Regions from separate parts of the Homo sapiens genome. Here region 2 is linked to region 1. Evidence: fine-mapped expression QTL. Tissue or cell type: whole blood. Region 1 holds a variant in brackets; the other region holds the start of a gene. All regions are shown on one strand. Distances are between the middles of the regions.

What was found. PIP is the estimated chance that this variant, and not a neighbour inherited with it, causes the effect.
Region 2: TNFRSF8 starts here. The variant in region 1 is fine-mapped to the expression of TNFRSF8 in whole blood (TOPMed, PIP above 0.99).

What each region holds. Positions count from the first base shown.
Region 1 is chr1:12,122,280-12,130,382 of GRCh38, reverse strand. It overlaps TNFRSF8 (TNF receptor superfamily member 8), which reads right to left. Exons shown (of 15, transcript NM_001243.5): 9 at 7,006-7,099; 10 at 6,556-6,668; 11 at 4,331-4,432; 12 at 4,147-4,200. Among named protein-coding and RNA genes, the nearest start is that of MIR7846, 41 kb to the left of the region's middle. The variant CA/A (reference allele first, on the strand shown) is at 4,484.
Region 2 is chr1:12,059,094-12,067,196 of GRCh38, reverse strand. It overlaps TNFRSF8 (TNF receptor superfamily member 8), which reads right to left and starts at 3,894. Exons shown (of 15, transcript NM_001243.5): 1 at 3,536-3,894. The coding sequence starts at 3,598. RefSeq lists silencers at 3,502-3,631, 4,219-4,451.

The DNA of each region.
Region 1 (8,103 bases):
GATACACCAAAGCACACAAGAGCCAGCTTAAAGGGGCTCTCCCTGACCTCATCTGGGACCATTTGAGCACCAAAATAAAAAATGATGGTAAGAGATTACAACCCATTGAACAGAACAGGGCCCCATGAATCCATACAGATATAAATATGTAAGTGAAGAAAATTAAGTTCTGGGCTGGGCGCGGTGGCAGCTCACGCCTGTCATCCCTGAACTTTGGGAGGCCGAGGCGGGAGGACCACTTGAGGCCAGGAGTTCGAGACCAGCCTGGCCAACATGGTGAAACTCTGTCTCTACTGAAAATACAAAAAATGAGCCAGGCATTGTGTGGCACACGCCTGTAATCCCAGCCACTTGGGAGGCTGAAGCAGGAGAATTGCTTGAACCCAGGAGGCGGGGGTTGCAGTAAGCCGAGATCACACTACTGCACTCCAGCCTGGGTGACAGAGCCAGACCCTGTCTCAAAAAAATAAACAAATAAATAGAGAAAATGAAGGTCTGCTGAAGAATGGGCTATTGACATAGTCTCAAGTAACGCCCCTAAAGACTTAGTAATGACCGAGGAGCAAATGGAGACGTCACAGTGGAGAGGCCCGGCAGGACATCACCTCCGTCGAGCGCTCAAAGTACACAGCACCAGGAAAGGGAGACATCGAAACCTGGCAGGACGCCCTGAGAGAGAAGAGGCCAGCATCATTCCTGGGACCTTCCAGCCCAAGATGCATGACCTGAATCCACTCGGGAGAAAACACCAGACAAACCCAAAGCAAGGAGCATCCATGAAATCACCAGCCTGCGCTCTTCCCAGTAAGTGAAAGAAACGCCTGGGGAACGGATCCGGACAGAAGGAGACTCGAGAAACCAGACAAGCAAATGTAACACGTGGCCCTGAGCTGGAGTCCTCTGCTATAAAGGACATTATTGGGACAAATAAAGAAACTTCAACAGGGCCTGAGAATTCATTGTGGGTCATGTATCAGTGTGAATTCCAATTCTGACGATCCTTACCACATCGTGTAAAATACACCCTTGTCTGTCTGAAACACACACTGAAGTTTTCGGGGTGAGAGACATCCAGTCAGTCAGTTACTCTCAAATGGTTCAGGTCAAAATGAATTCTTCATACTTATACCATTTCTATAAGTTTGAAACTGTTTCAAAACAAAAAAAGAATTTCTTTCAACCTAAATCTCCCTGGAATAATAGAAAATGACTCAAGTGCTCATAAAAATGAAGGATTAAAAGAATTTTAAGGCCAGGCATGGTGGCTCATGCCTGCAAACCCAGCACTTTGGGAGGCCGAGGCAGGCGGATCATGAGGTCAGGAGTTTGAGACCAGCCTGGCCAACACGGTGAAACCCCGTCTCTACTAAAAATACCAAAATTAGCCAGGCATGGTGGCAGGAGCCTGTAATCCCAGCTACTCAGGAGGCTGAGGCAGGAGAATCACTTGAACCCGTGAGGCGGAGGTTGCAGTGAACCCAGATGGCACCAGTGCACTCCAGCCTGGGTGACAGAGCGAGACTCTGTCTCAAAAAAAAAAAAAAAAAAAGAATTTTAGACCAGTGGTTCTCAACCAGGAGGTTTTCCCCAGGGGCCACATGGCAATGTCTAGAGACATTTTTGGTTGTCCCAAGTAGGGAAGGTTACTGGCATCTAGAGGGGCTGTACAACGTCCTATAGGATAGCGCTCCACAGCAAAGAACCATCCATTCCCAAATGTCAATGGTGCCAAGGGTGAAAAATCTTTTTACAAACATCTCAACAACCACGATAAAATCCCCGTCCTACGGCTCACCCAGCACGTGGCCTTAAACGAATTACTTCACCATCCTGTGCCTTAGGCTGCTAATCTGTGCAACGGGGATAACAGTAAGTACCTCACAGGCCACCGGAGGAGTGGATGAGATCACGTGTGTGCTTTGCAAATGCCTGTCACCGAGGACACACACGGGAAGGTCGATCCACTCGAGGGCTGGTTGGTGGGCCTCTCATCGCACCTGCACGGACCACAGATCCCTGATGTGCTCACTGCTCAAAGGAACCAAGAGCACCCTCTGCCCCAGGTCTGGGATGTGGGAGGCCAAGGGGCGCACACTCCCCTCCCGTCTGCCTTTGGCCTCTGCGGGCAGTCGGAATTAGTCTAAAAGCTTGGAGGGAGCTAGAACAGCTTCTGGGCCCGGCACAGAGCCTGCAAGGAGGAAGTGCTCCGTGAAGACCATGTGAATAGATGAATGAACGAACCAATAAACCAGTGCCAATAAACCAGTGCTCCTTCCCTCCTTCACCACCCACGGCTCAGGAGGGAAAGGGGCATCCGGCCAGCTCGGTCCATTCTCACCCGGTGCTCTGTGAGCTTGCCTGTCTTGGCTTCACTTTCTGTCCATCTTGAGCCTCGGAACCCAGACCCCAAGGTCCCACCAGAAGCTAGAGGGTCAAAAACGACCTGAGATAAGATGTCCACCATTGAGTCTCAGGGCTCAGTTCTTTGTAGACCTGGCTTCTTAGGGGAAGGTGTTTTCTTTCTTTCTTTCTTTTTTTCTTCTGTAACAAAACTGCTCTCACAGAGGTTTGAAGAAAAAAAATAAACTGACGGCAATGGAAATTCTAATACTAGAAAAATGTCAAGAAAGCAAACGCCGGTTTCAATGAGACACTCAGCCTGACAGGTCATGGAAACAGGCTTGAAACTATCAAAACACAAAAACCCCCCTTGCACAGGGACCACAGTGCTTGCTTGTGAAACTCGTCAAATTCAAAACATGCCTCAGTGGACTGTGTTTTTGTGCCCAAGTCAACAGTCAGCCTATGCAAGGGCCTCTGCAAGGGTCCTGGGGAGATCAGGGGACGGGCCAGGGCCTGGCCTTAGGCTGAGCACGTGGCTCTTGGGTAGGCATTGCGATGGTGGACAGAGCTGGCAGGGGGAAGGAAGAGGGGACAGGGCTGAGCCCTTTACAAACCAAAACCCCTAGGACCAGTGCCTGAGGCTGGCTGTGCCACTGCCAGGCTGTGTGGCCCTGGGCCAGCCGTCCACCTTGCTGAGCCCTGCCTCCTCCTTGCAGAACAAAGGTCATCACTGGGGGAGTACAGGAAGCCTGTATGGGAGCCCACCTTGCAAATCAGAAACGAAGGCTCAGACGATTCCCCCATCAGAGCCCAGCACAGAGCAGGCACCCAATCCATGCCATGCAGTGCTGAGGAAGACCCTGGCCTGCCTTGAAGGGGCTGCCCAGGAGAGAGAAGGTGCTTGGCACAAGATAGCTGGGAGCCCCCTGCCCCAGGTGAGAGCTAGAAGACACACGCTGTATAGACGACCCTGCCTGGACAGGTGAGGAGGGTTCCAGCTCCCAAGGGCTGCCTGGAAGAGCTGGCCCAGAGGCTGGGCAGGGATCAGAGTGCAGGGACCAGGGAGGGGGTCAGAAGCACCCAGGACTCAGGAAGGCCTGAAGCTTCCAGGAAGGAAAAAGCCCCAGGCACAGGCCAGCCTGTCAATAGGCAGCAGCCACCGATTGCAGGCAGGTACTCCACGATGCGCTTAACAGCCCGACCTCGACGAATCCACAGGCCAAGCCTCTGAAGTAGATTCTACCATCTGCATTTTCCGGATGAGGAAACTGAGACACAGGACAATTCAGTAACTCACCCAGGGTCACACAGCTTGTAAGTGGCAGAACCAGGGTCCCTCTTGCCCCATGTGCTCCTTTCCCCTCCTGCCCCTGGGCTGACTTGCCAGGTGGTAGAAGAGGGGGAGAGAGGGGAAAGAGAAAGAGAAGGAGGGAGAGGGAGAAAGGGAGGGTAGAATGTAGAGAGGAAGGCAAGGCTGGCAGGAATGCCCCCTGGGGGTACTGGAGGAAAAAGTGACAGACAAGATAGACTTTTAAACGTTCATGCCAGCATCCATCCAGGTGCTGCTCTGGGCAAGCCACACAGTCGTCACACCCAGTACAGTCTTCACCTCATTGCATTCTCCACACGCATGAGTTTTCACCCACATTGCATCCCTACAGATGTACAGAATGCGACAGGAGCCACAGACAGGGAGCTTCGAGGCTGGGGTAGAAGTTCAGTCTCTGGAGCCCACGCCCCGGGCCCAGAGCTGCCCTGTGTTCCTCTGGCTCGGGCAGCCCCTTTGGACGGCTGGACACTCACCCACAAGCTCTAGCTTGGGCTGGGAGGTCTGGACCGGGTAGCACAGGTGGAGCTCTGAAACGACACCAGGAGGAAGGCTGGGGGTGGCGGCCTCAGAGAGCAGGAGCAGGCAGGGAAAGAACCCAGGCCAGGCTGGCAGAGAGCAACCTGTCCTCCCCAAGGCCCCAAGGACACAGCCACTTACTCTGCCGAATTCGCTTCCTGCAGGCCCTCCGGTGGCACAGGAGGAAGGCGCTGGAGCCGACCACCACAACCAACACCAGGATCACCCAGAAGAGCACTGGCCCTGGAACACAGAGACGCCCCACACTCTTTGCCTTGCTGCAACCACACAAGA[CA/A]GCCCCAGCCCCAGACGACTTCCTCCTTCTCCTGGGACACAGCTTCCATCATGGCTAACAACAACAGGTCCTTTCCAAGCCAAGGCTCTTATCTCATCCAGCCCTCCCTCGCCTGGCTCCAGGAAGCTGATCAACTATTGAAGGCTGAGAGAAGGGCAAACTGTGTCTAGAGAGTGAGAAATTGAGGCGTCTAGGAGCCAGAACAAAGGAATTGAGGTCCAATAGACCAAAATTTGGGGACTGTGGACGAGGGCCCGGTGTGACCGGCATCTGGCAGCACTGCTGGTGTGGCCGGAGTCAGGGTGGGGAGGGCCAAGCAGTGAGGGGAAGGAAGAGGTTGAACCCAGTCCCCTCCCGGCCAACCCTCTAGACCTGCTTGATGAGGGCAGGCATGGAGTCCCCACTGCACATAAACACACCCCACAAGCGTTCCCTGAATGAATGATCCCCAACCCTATGCCCTAGGCACCGTCACTACCTTCAGTTTAAAAATGAGGGGAGCTGAGGCTCACGAAAGTTCGTTAAGTTGCCCAAGGTCACCCTGAGAGTAAGTGGCAGAGCCCCAGCCCAGGCCAGGCCAGGCCGGGGGGACTGCAGGGCCACGCTCTTAACCCCTATCTAGATCTACTTCTTCACACCTCGGTACTAAACTCGCTTCGTTTTTCCCTTTTGTCACTTACAGAGATCATAGAGCTAGTGATTGCACTTTATTGAAGTCCATGTTTAGATGTTTAAAAAGTAGTATATGCCAGTTAAGTGCTTCTCAAACGTTAATGTGCACATGAGTGCCCTGGAGATCTTGTTAAAGTGCAGTTTCTGATTCTCTAGGTCTGGGATGGGGCCCATAATTTGCTTTCCTAACAAGTTCCCAGCCGGTGCCAATGCTGCCAGACGGGACCGCACTTTCAGAAACTCTGGCCGGAGCACTACTGCCACCTCGTGTCAGCCACTAGAACTGCAAGTCCTAAAATGAGTAACCTGGCATCTTTCCCTAAGAGCTAACTCTTGGGGGTTTTGTTTGTTTTGTTTTGTTTTGTTTTGTTTTGTTTTGTTTTGTTTTGTTTTGTTTGAGACTGATTCTCATTCTGCTGCTCAGGCTGGAGTGCAGCGGTGCAATCTCGGCTCACTGCAACCTTGCAACCTCCGCCTCCCGGGTTCAAGCGATTCTCCTGCCTCAGCCTCCTGAGTAGCTGGGATTACAGGCGCGCGCCACCACGCCTGGCTAATTTTTGTATTTTTAGTAGAGATGTGGTTTCATCGTGTTGGCCAGGCTGGTCTCAAACTCCTGACCTCGTGATCCACCCACCTTGGCCTCCCAAAGTGCTGGGATTACAGGCGTGAGCCACCGCGTCCAGCCTAAGAGCTAACTCTGACAGAGGCCGTCTACAATGCTACACTGCTTATAACCCTGCACGGTCTCTGCCATTACCATTGTATAGATGAGACAACTGAGGCTCAAAGGCTCGAACAACTAGTCAAAGTCATGAAATCAATCAACAAAGACCTATTTTCTGAGTAGCAATTATAAGCCACGAGGATGAAGCTGTGAAAAAAATTCCTGCCTACAAGAATTAAAGAATAGTCACTAGCAGCCAGGCGCAGTGGTTCACACCTATAATCCTAGCACTTTGGGAGGCTGAAGCAGGTGGATCACCTGAGGTCAGGAGTTTGAGACCAACCTGGACAACATGGCAAAACCCCGTCTCTACTAAAAATTAAAAAAAAATTTAGCCAGGCGTGGTGGCAAGCGCCTGTAAACCCAGCTACTCGGGAGGCTGAGACAGGAGAATCTCTTGAACCTGGGAGGTGGAGGTTGCAGTGAGCCAAGATGGGTGCCACTGCCCTCCAGCCTGAGCAACAGAGTGAGACTGTTTCAAAAAGAAAAGAATAGTCACTAGCAAGTGCCAGAGCCACAGCACCAACTCAAGAAGCCAGAAACCTGGGGTCAACCTTAATCCCCCTTCTCAGACCATACCCACAAAGGAGAAGCTCCCTCCTGGCTCCCCCAATCCACACTTCCCCAGGAGGAAGCCCCTGCTGGGAGTAGGGGTGAGTGGGCTGGGACCATTACCTGCATCCAGAACGGGCTTCCCCGTGGAGGAGAGAGCGACGGGAGCGCTGGTTGGGATGGGCAGCGTCTTACTGGCCTGGGAGTCCACCAGCAAGCTCTGAGTGGGGCTGGTGCTGCGGGGAGAAGCCCAAGGCAGGAGTGATGAAGATGGGAAGAGGGAAGTGGGTCTTCAGGAATAATTCCCTTTCTCTGGAGACTGCGCAACCAGAGCCTGGGCCCCTAGATCCTCTGCCCCGAGTCTCTGCCAGGCATTTTGAGGGCAGGGACTGGGTTTCAAGGCCTTCTGGCTTTCCAATGGTGTCAGCAAAGAGATGGGCACACATTTAACAAAAGAGCAGCCCAGGCCCCACCTCCACCCCCAGCCCAGCTGCCTCCCAGGCATCCCCTGGGCATGGCAGGGACAGCTCCCTCCTGCAGCAGCCAAACAGAGAGAAGGGGTGGGGGAGTCACCTGGCAGGCGCCTCGCCATTCTCTGGGGTGGGGTTGCAGTCCGGCTGGGTCCCCAGGGGTGGCGCCTCAAAGGTGGTGTCCTTCTCAGCCATATCTGCAGAGGGGACGTAACATCTGAGAACCAGCGCCAAGGAGGCTGGTGTCTCCAGGAAAGAGTTAACCAGCAGGGACTGGTGGCTTCCAGCGAGGCAACACCGTGGGAGCTAAGACAGTCAGATTTGTGTTTCAAAAGATCAAAGTGGAAAAGCTGGCCAGGCACATTGGCTCACACCTGTAATCACAGCATTTTGGGAGGCTGAGGCAGGAGGACCACTTGAGGTCAGGAGTTCGAGACCAGCCTGACCAACACGGTGAAACCCCATCTCTACTAAAAACACAAAAATTAGCCAGGTGTGATGGCACACACCTGTAATCCTAGCTACTCAGGAGGCTGAGGCAGGAGAATCGTTTGAACCCGGGAGGTGGAGGCTGCAGTGAGCTGAGATCATGCCACTGCACTCCAGCCTGGGCGACAGAGAAAGACTCAAAATAAATAAAACAAAGTGGAGAAGTTGCTACTTGTCTCTAACAGCTGTGGTCACCCAGGAAGGTGAAACAGTGACGCTAGACCTTTTGCTTTTAAGAGAAAACTGAAATCGCCTAATGTTTAAATACAGCCTCAATTTTTAAAGTTTTTTTCTTTTAAATCAACTTTATTAAGGAATTATTTATTTATTTATGTTTAATTTTTTGAGATTGAGTCTTCCTCTGCTGCCCAGACTGGAGTGCAGTGGCACGATCTCAGCTCATTGCAACTTCTGCCTCCCGGATTCAAGTGATTCTCCTGCCTCAGCCTCCTGAGTAGCTGGGATTACAGGTGCCTGCCAACATGCCCAGCTAATTTTTGTATTTTTAGTAGAAACAGGGTTTCACCATGTTGACCAGGCTGGTCTCGAACTCCTGACCTCAAGTGATCCGCCCACCTCAGCCTCCCAAAGTGCTGGGATCGTAGGCGTGAGCCACCATGCCCAGCCTAAGGCAACATTTATATACAAGAAAGTATCCCCTGGCAGGGTAGGGTGGCTCCCGCCTGTAATCCCAGCACTTTGGGAGGCTGAA
Region 2 (8,103 bases), 63 kb after region 1:
ACCACATGGTGCCTGGATGAAAAGGATGGAGCTATGGGGGAATAAATTTTTCTCTGCAGATATGCACCAGTTAATCCTGGGTCATATTACAAAAAAACACAATTGGACAAGACAGTGATACGAAGCATCAGAGGCCAACTCTCAGATGGTGCCAGCTAGCAAGAAAGCATTCCTGCCTCAGAATACCAGGCGAAAAATGATGGCGTCTTGGGAAAAATCAAATAGAGATGAAAAAAGAACTTCAGGATGGGCACGGTGGCTCACGCCTGTAATCCCAGCACTTTGGGATGCCGAGGTGGGAGGATCACTTGAGGCCAGGAGCTCGAGACCAGCCTGACCAACATGACGAAACCCCATCTCTACTAAAAATACAAAAATTAGCTGGGTGAGGTGGCAGGCACCTATAATCCCAGCTATTCAGGAGGCTGAGGCAGGAGAATCACTTGAACCCAGGAGGCAGAGGTTGCAGTGAGCTGAGATTGCGCCACTGCACTCCAGCCTGGGAGACAAAGTGAGACTGTCCCAAAAAATAAAAAAAAATTTAGGCCGGGGGCGGTGGCTCACGCCTGTAATCCCAGCACTTTGGGATGCCGAGGTGGATGGATCTCCTGAGGTCAGGAGTTCAAGACCAGCCTGGCCAACATTATGAAACCCCATCTCTACTAAAATACAAAAATTAGCCAGGCATGATGGCAAGTGCCTGTAATCCAAGCTACTAGGGAGGCTGAGACGGTAGAATCACTTGAACCTGGGAGAGGGTGGTTGCAGTGAGCCAAGATCGTGCCACTGCACTCCAGCCTGGGCAGCTGAGGGAGACTTCATCTCAAAAAAAAAAAAAAAAATTTTAAACTCAAGGAAATTCAAGCCCTAATTTGGGATTTTTTTTTTAAAATAACGAGCTTCCCGAACCTTTACTGGAAAAAACAGAAGTGGGAGAAGGCTTGAGGGGCAAAAAGGAGTACTGTGTTGGGCAGGTAGTCCCTTCCCCAAGGACTCCCTGACTCCTGCCAAGAAATGACCTAGTGCCTGAGCCCAGAGAGATGCTCAGCTTCCCCGGTAGGCGAGAAATGCAAATTAAGGCAACAAGGATATAACCCTTTTCACTAATCACATTGAGAAAAATTAAAATGCTGATAAGATCAAATGTCGGTTAGGATGTGGGAAAGTTACTACTCTCTTGCACTGCTAGCGGGAGGGTAAATTGTCCAGCCACCCTGGAAGGCAGTTCGGTGGTGTCTTTTAATTTGAATGCATTTTCGCCCTGCAACCTCAGTATTCTCTTCTCAGTCTCTTGTCTAGGAAAGAATCACAGACATTTATTTCCAAAAGCATCCATATAGGGCTGTGCACTGTAGTAGAGAACAAAGAAAGAAAGAAAGAACAATGGTGGCAACCTTAGCACCCATCCATCCAGGACATAAATAAACTATGAAACATCCCATTTGGCAAAAGATCACATAGCATTTTAAAAGATAGGCAGAGGATCTGTAAGTTTCAGCATGGAAAGCTCACCAAGATGCCTCATAGACATTATAAAGCCAAATGAAGAACCATATGTACTGTAGGGTATAGTATATGGAAAACTATATATATGTCTATTAAAACAATATAAATATGGACATGCATTTATAAAGGTCTGCAAAGGAAACACACCAAATCAATTATGGTGGTTATATCTTTGAAGGGATCAGGATGAGGCGGTGTCAAAAGACTTGGCTTTATCTGTAGCGTTTACAGTTTTGCTTTGAGAATATATTTATATATTCCTTGTGCAATTAAATATATAGTATTTTTATTTTAAAAAGGGTATGGGAGGCTGGGTGTGGTGGCTCATGCCTGTAACCCTAGCACTTTGGGAGGCCGAGACGGAAGGATCACTTGAGGTCAGGAGTTCGAGACCAGACTGACCAACATGGTGAAACCTCATCTTTACTAAAAATACAAAAATTAGCCGGGTGTGGTGGCACATGCCTGTAATCCCAGCTACCTGGGAGGCTGAGGCAGGAGAATCACTTGAATCCGGGAGGCAGAGGTTGCAGTGAGCCGAGATCGAGCATTGCACTCCAGCATGGGCAACAAGAGTGAGACTCAGTCTCAAAAAAAAAAAAAAAAAAAAAAGGTTTGGTATGAGAGTTCAGGCTGTAGTGAGTTATGATCGCACTCCAGCCTGGACAACAGAGTGAGACCCTGTCTCTAACATTAAAAAAAGTGGAGGGGGCTTCACTCTACAGAAAGGAAGCACATGAGCTTCAGCTGCCAAACCAAACCAGCAAAGCCCCCCAAGCACCTCTCACATCTCTTCCTTCCCTTCATCTCCCCAAGACCTTGGCACTCCAAACTCTTACCTTCCCCCAGGTGAGGGCTTGCAGAGCTGGGACAGGGTGTCTCTAGCCAGGGCTTTGTCCCCTCTGCCCTCTTGGGGGGAAAGGGGGAATACCTCACATTGCCCATTGGAAATGGAAGAGGGCATAGTTCCTCCTTTGCTGCATAGTTCCTCCCTCCTGCCTAAAGCCCACTCTGCCACTCTCCTCCCACTGCCTAAGGTTCAGATGACTAGAATTGATCCATAGCATGGAGTCCTCTCTTCCTGTAGGATTAAAGGGGAACTGGGTCTTCCCTCTCCCCCACCGTGACCCACCGCTGGACTAACAGCCTGCTCCTTCCTTTCCCTCTGTATCATTCAGCAGGCATCCACTCGCACCTACTATGGTTCTATGCAGGGGTCCACCGGGGTCCTGGGTCAGCTGAGGGCCTCTCTCTCCAGCAGCCCCTGGGCTCCGTGAAACACGCCTGGTTACTTTGCATTCTCCCCACAGTGATTAATTTGGCGCTGGCCACTGGTAAGTGCTCAGTTTTCCTAAAGCAGTCCCCAAACTCAATTCTGAGGCAACCCACCATAGACTTCAGCCCCACCACTGACCTTCTTCCAGGGGCAAATGCCCACCACGTGCTCCAGCGAATTCAATCCACAGCGTTGCTTTGCCGGACGCGGATTGGGGAAGCTAATCCCGGTGGTCCTGCACCCTCACCCCACTCTCACCCACAGCCAACTCTCCCTCCTTTCCTTGACCCTCCAGCCAGTGGCCAGCTTAGGAAGGGGGCAAACGGGACCGCGCACACAACAGGGTAGAGCGCGGACGACCAACCTCCCATGGCTAAGGGAGGCCCCATCTGGCCTGCCCACTACTCCCACGGCCTCACCTGATCTGCCCAGGACCCCGACGGGCCCGCAGGTAGGCGGGCTAAAGAGCGCCTCCCGCGTATGGCAGTGCTCTCAGTCCAATTCACACTGAATGAATGAATCAGTCCCAGCCATCGCGGGGTGAGAAGGAGGCGCCCCCCACCACTAGCCCTTCAGCCAGCCTCCCACCTGTGGGTGCTAGCATATTCCGGTGTTCCTGCTTGTCACCCGCGCCCCCTCACTCCAGCTGGGCAGGGAACGGGGTGAGGAGTGTCCTCCCTTGCGTCCCACGCACCCCACACTGTCCGGGCTCTGGACCGCCGGCACCTCCCCAGGCGCCCGTCACCCGCTTACCTGTGGGAAGGCTCGTAGCGCCCCCAGGAACAGCAGTCCCAGCGCGGCGAGGAGGACGCGCATCCCCGGGGCCGGACGTGAGGTGGCCTGGCGGCCGGCGCCCACCTGGGAAGCGGGGGAAGCGCGCGGCGCCCACGTGCGGTCCCGGCGGTTCTCAGCCGCGCGCGTGGACTTCAGGCTCCAGCACACTCCCGCCGCGGCCACCTAGTCCGCACCCAACGCACGCCGCGAAGTCACTTCAAAAGTGGTTGTTCCTCCGAGGTTTCAGCCTTAGTTCTCCCGTATCAAATTGGTTCCAGGAACACTTAGCTACAAGCAGCGAAGAAAAAAGGGGGCAAACACGTGCAGAGATGACTCAGGAAAAGGCACACTAGGAGACGCCTCCCTTAGCTGTTTGAATGGCCCGCCCCGGATTTGACGGAACTAGTGGTCCTGGCTCTAGGGAGTGTGCTGCCCGCCGCACCTGGGCTGCGGGGAGCGGAGGCAGGCAGCTTCTGGCCCTGGAGGTGGGGACTCACAGGATATTAGGAGGCCCCAAGGGGGTTCCAATGCCCCCACCTCCACTCCTGCCCCAAGAAACGGTGAAATGTGAGTAGTTTCCTGTCCCTGACACGATCAGCCAGGACCTTCTCCCATGCCCTTGAGATTCTTTGGAAGGGACAACTGGCCTAGGGAGACTGCAGAAAAAGCAACCATCACCCACCCATCCCCATTCATAAGCATTTGCTGTAAAATGAATCAGTGAGTGGATGATAAATTGGTGGATGGATGGATGGATGGATGGATGCATAGGTGGATGGATGGATGGATGGATGGATGGATGGATGGATGGATGGATGCATAAGTGGATGGATGGATGGATGGATGGATGGATGGATGGATGGATGGATGCATAGGTGGATGGATGGATGGATGGATGGATGGATGGATGGATGGATGGATGCATAAGTGGATGGATGGATGGATGGATGGATGGATGCATAAGTGGATGGATGGATGGATGGATGGATGGGTGAGCAGCAGGTGAGTGGGTAAATGGGTGGGTGGATGGGTGGATGGATGGATGCATAGATGGATGGATGGATGGATGCATAGGTGGATGGATGGATGGATGGATGGATGGATGGATGCATAAGTGGATGGATGGATGGATGGATGGATGGATGGATGGATGGATGGATGGATGCATAGGTGGATGGATGGATGGATGGATGGATGGATGGATGGATGGATGCATAAGTGGATGGATGGATGCATAAGTGGATGGATGGATGGATGGATGGATGGATGGATGGATGGATGGGTGAGCAGCAGGTGAGTGGGTAAATGGGTGGGTGGATGGGTGGATGGATGGATGCATAGATGGATGGATGGATGGATGCATAGGTGGATGGATGGATGGATGGATGAGCAGCAGGTGAGTGGGTAAATGGGTGGGTGGATTGGTAGATGGATGGACTGAATGTTGGAGGAACTGATGGATGGTATAGATCATTTTATTTCCCTGAGGCCTGACCCTTTAGAGTTTTCTTCCTGGAGGAGGCGGCTGGCACTCTCTCCTAACAGAAATGATTCAAGCCTCCTCGTACTATGTTCTCATTTGCTGGTGAATGATTTTCCCTTCCAGTGCTTCCCCATCCCCTGGGTTTTCTCTTTGCTCCTTTTATTCCACATTCCGTGTGTCTGTGTTGAGCATCTGCTGGGTGGGCCACAGGTCAAGGGTTCTTTTGACTGATTTTGTTTGGTTTTCAGATGTGAAAGCCAAGGCTCAGAAATAGGCAGGCAGTCCTAGGTGCTCTAATTAAGGGTGGGCCAGTTATTTTCCCTGAGCCCAGAATAGCCTAAGGATACTCTGGCTTCTGTGTCTACCTTGATCTGTCCTGCGAGGTACCAGGCCTCCATCAGGTGAAGGCCCTATAGGGTAGGAGTGATAACCTCCCACCAGGAACTTCCCAGCAAGGTCTCCACAACTGACCACTCCATGCTCAACCCTCCTGGGGCTGCTGGACTCCACTTGGGAAAACTGCTCCATCATGCCCCTTCCCAAGAGACCCACTTCCAGACTCTCCTCTGGATGTACCAGGCCCAGTATCTTAGGCTGTTTGAGCTGGGACTATGTTAAACAATGAGGTAAGCAATTATGGAAGTGACCTGCCTGTGATAATGACAGAACCAGACAGGGACAGGAGGAACGCAAGACACCTGCTTCCCAGTCCAGAGCTTTCTACTACAAAAGTAGAAAAGCTGGCAGCTGGGTGACATGGCTCATATCTGTAATCCCAACACTTTGGGAGGCCGAGGTTGGAGGATCACTTGAGCCCAGTTTGAGACCAGCCCGGGTAACGTAGCAAGACCTCATCTCTATTTTTTGTTTAATTAAAAAAGAGAGAGAGAGAAGGGCTGGTGTTTTGAATAAATAAATGAACAACAGCATCAAAATAGCTTGCACAAGGAGAAATACAAATAAAAATCAATTACAAGTTTTATAAGTTTAACCTTTTTAGTAATTAAAGAAATGCAAATTCAAGCAACCTTTGATAACCTTTTAGATCTATACAATCATCATTTTTTTTTTTTTGCTTTATAAAAACAATTTTGGTAAATCCAACCCCAAAGTTGTGGTGAGACCAGAATACTCATTCATACTCTGCTGGTAAATGTTACAACCCTTTTCAGAAAGCAGTATGGCAATTTTTAGCAAAAGCCAAAAAAAAAAAAAAATGTGTACTACTTGTGAGTGGCTCAGTAATTTCACCTCAGTGAAGAAAAACTAAGGAAATAATTTAACTGGAAAACTAGAAAAAGAAAAAAGAAAACTATACAGTAACATTTCCTTATATATTATTTATAAATTTTTGAAATACTCTGAGATTCACAACAAGAAATGATTACGGAAATTGTGGTACATCCATTTAATGGAATATTGCACATCCATTAAAAAGGATAAATCTATAGATGTTGTGGAAACTTGTCTCTCCCTCATATCCTTCCCTCCATGGATTTCCAAAGAGACCTTTCTAGCACACACATCTCACCAAGACACTCCCCTGTAGAGAACCCTTGCGGAAGTATGGTGTGTGTTTTGGCAGAGGACCACGTAGAAAATTATATTATTCATTTAATGATAACAATAACAGCTACCTTTGAGTGCTTATTTTGTGCTAAGAGTTTTCAGGCATTGGTTTCTTGTATCCTCATGAAAACCCCATGAACAAGGTCCTACTTTTATGCCCATTCTGCAGGAAAGGAACCCCTGCAGTGGCTCCCCTGGGTCAGAGTCACCCAAATGCAAGGGTGCACAAGTCTGCTCACAGCCTGGCAGGGGCTGACTCCTCCCTTGTGCCTTTTTACTTCTCCTGGACCTATACTCCAGCCAAATGTGCAGCCTTCTCACCCCTGCCAGCCTTTGCCCACGCTGGCCTCCACCTGGGACGCACACAGACTCCTGATCATCTTCCTAACCTGTTCCAATGCCACCTCCTCCTTGTTGCTTTCCTGGCAGTGTCTCCTGTCCCCCAGCCCTCTTCCCAGTCAAAAAGTGGTTTCTGTCATTTTTTGTGCCGCAATTCTAGATCTGATCTCATCATGTCATAACCATAATGACTGGTTCATGCATCCCTCTGCCCCAGGAAACTGTGTACTCCTGAGAACCAGAATTCCCCCAGGGCGCCCAGGAAAGTAGCTGACACATGGCTTAAGTGGAGGGAAGGCACATTTTGTGGCCAGGGAGCCAGCTGGATCCCAGGGGGAGATGGGCTGGTAGCAACCAAGGAAAACAGCCATTCATGGGACTCTTAAAAGCAGGCAGTGGATAGAGCCCCCGGGTGCCCTCGGCAGGTTTCAGGTGGTATGAAAGTGCTGTGAAGAGTAGAAGGGGAAGTCCCTAGGCTCTGTGCAAGGCACAGCAGCAGTCCTTGTTGTGGGGTCGTGGGGCCCTCCAGAGCAAGCTGTGGAAGGAAGCCAAGCCCGAGGGGCTACAGGAGACTGGGGAGCGAGGAGCGCTTGCTCACACAGTCTCAGCTCGGTGGGCTTCTTGGAGGAAAGGTGAGGAAGGTGAATGCAGTAGGAAGCCATCCAAGGGGAATTGGGAATCTGTGTCCCCAAAGTGATGCTGAGCAAGACACAAGGTCCCAACTTGGTTCAGGAAATTCAGGGACTTCCTCCAACAGCTGGGAACCCGAGTCCCAAATGGCCCCAAAATACCCTTAGCAGATAAAGGGTTCTTTCTGGCCCAGGCAGCAGCTGGCAGGTAGGAGGCTGGAAATCAGAGAGGGGAGGCTGGGGCCTTTCTTCTTCAATAGGTCCAGGTGCACCTTTTCTTTCTTTCTTTTTTTTTTTTTTTGAGATGGAGTCTCACTCTGTTGCCCAGGCTGGAGAGCAGTGGTGCAATCTCGGCTCACTACAACCTCCCCCTCCCCAGGTTCAAGCGATTCTCATGCTTAGCCTCCCGAGTAGCTGGGATTACAGGCGAGCATCACTGCACTCAGCTGATTTTTGTATTTTTAGTAGAGACAGGGTTTCACCATGTTGGCCAGACTGGTCTTGAACTCCTGACCTCAAGTGATCTG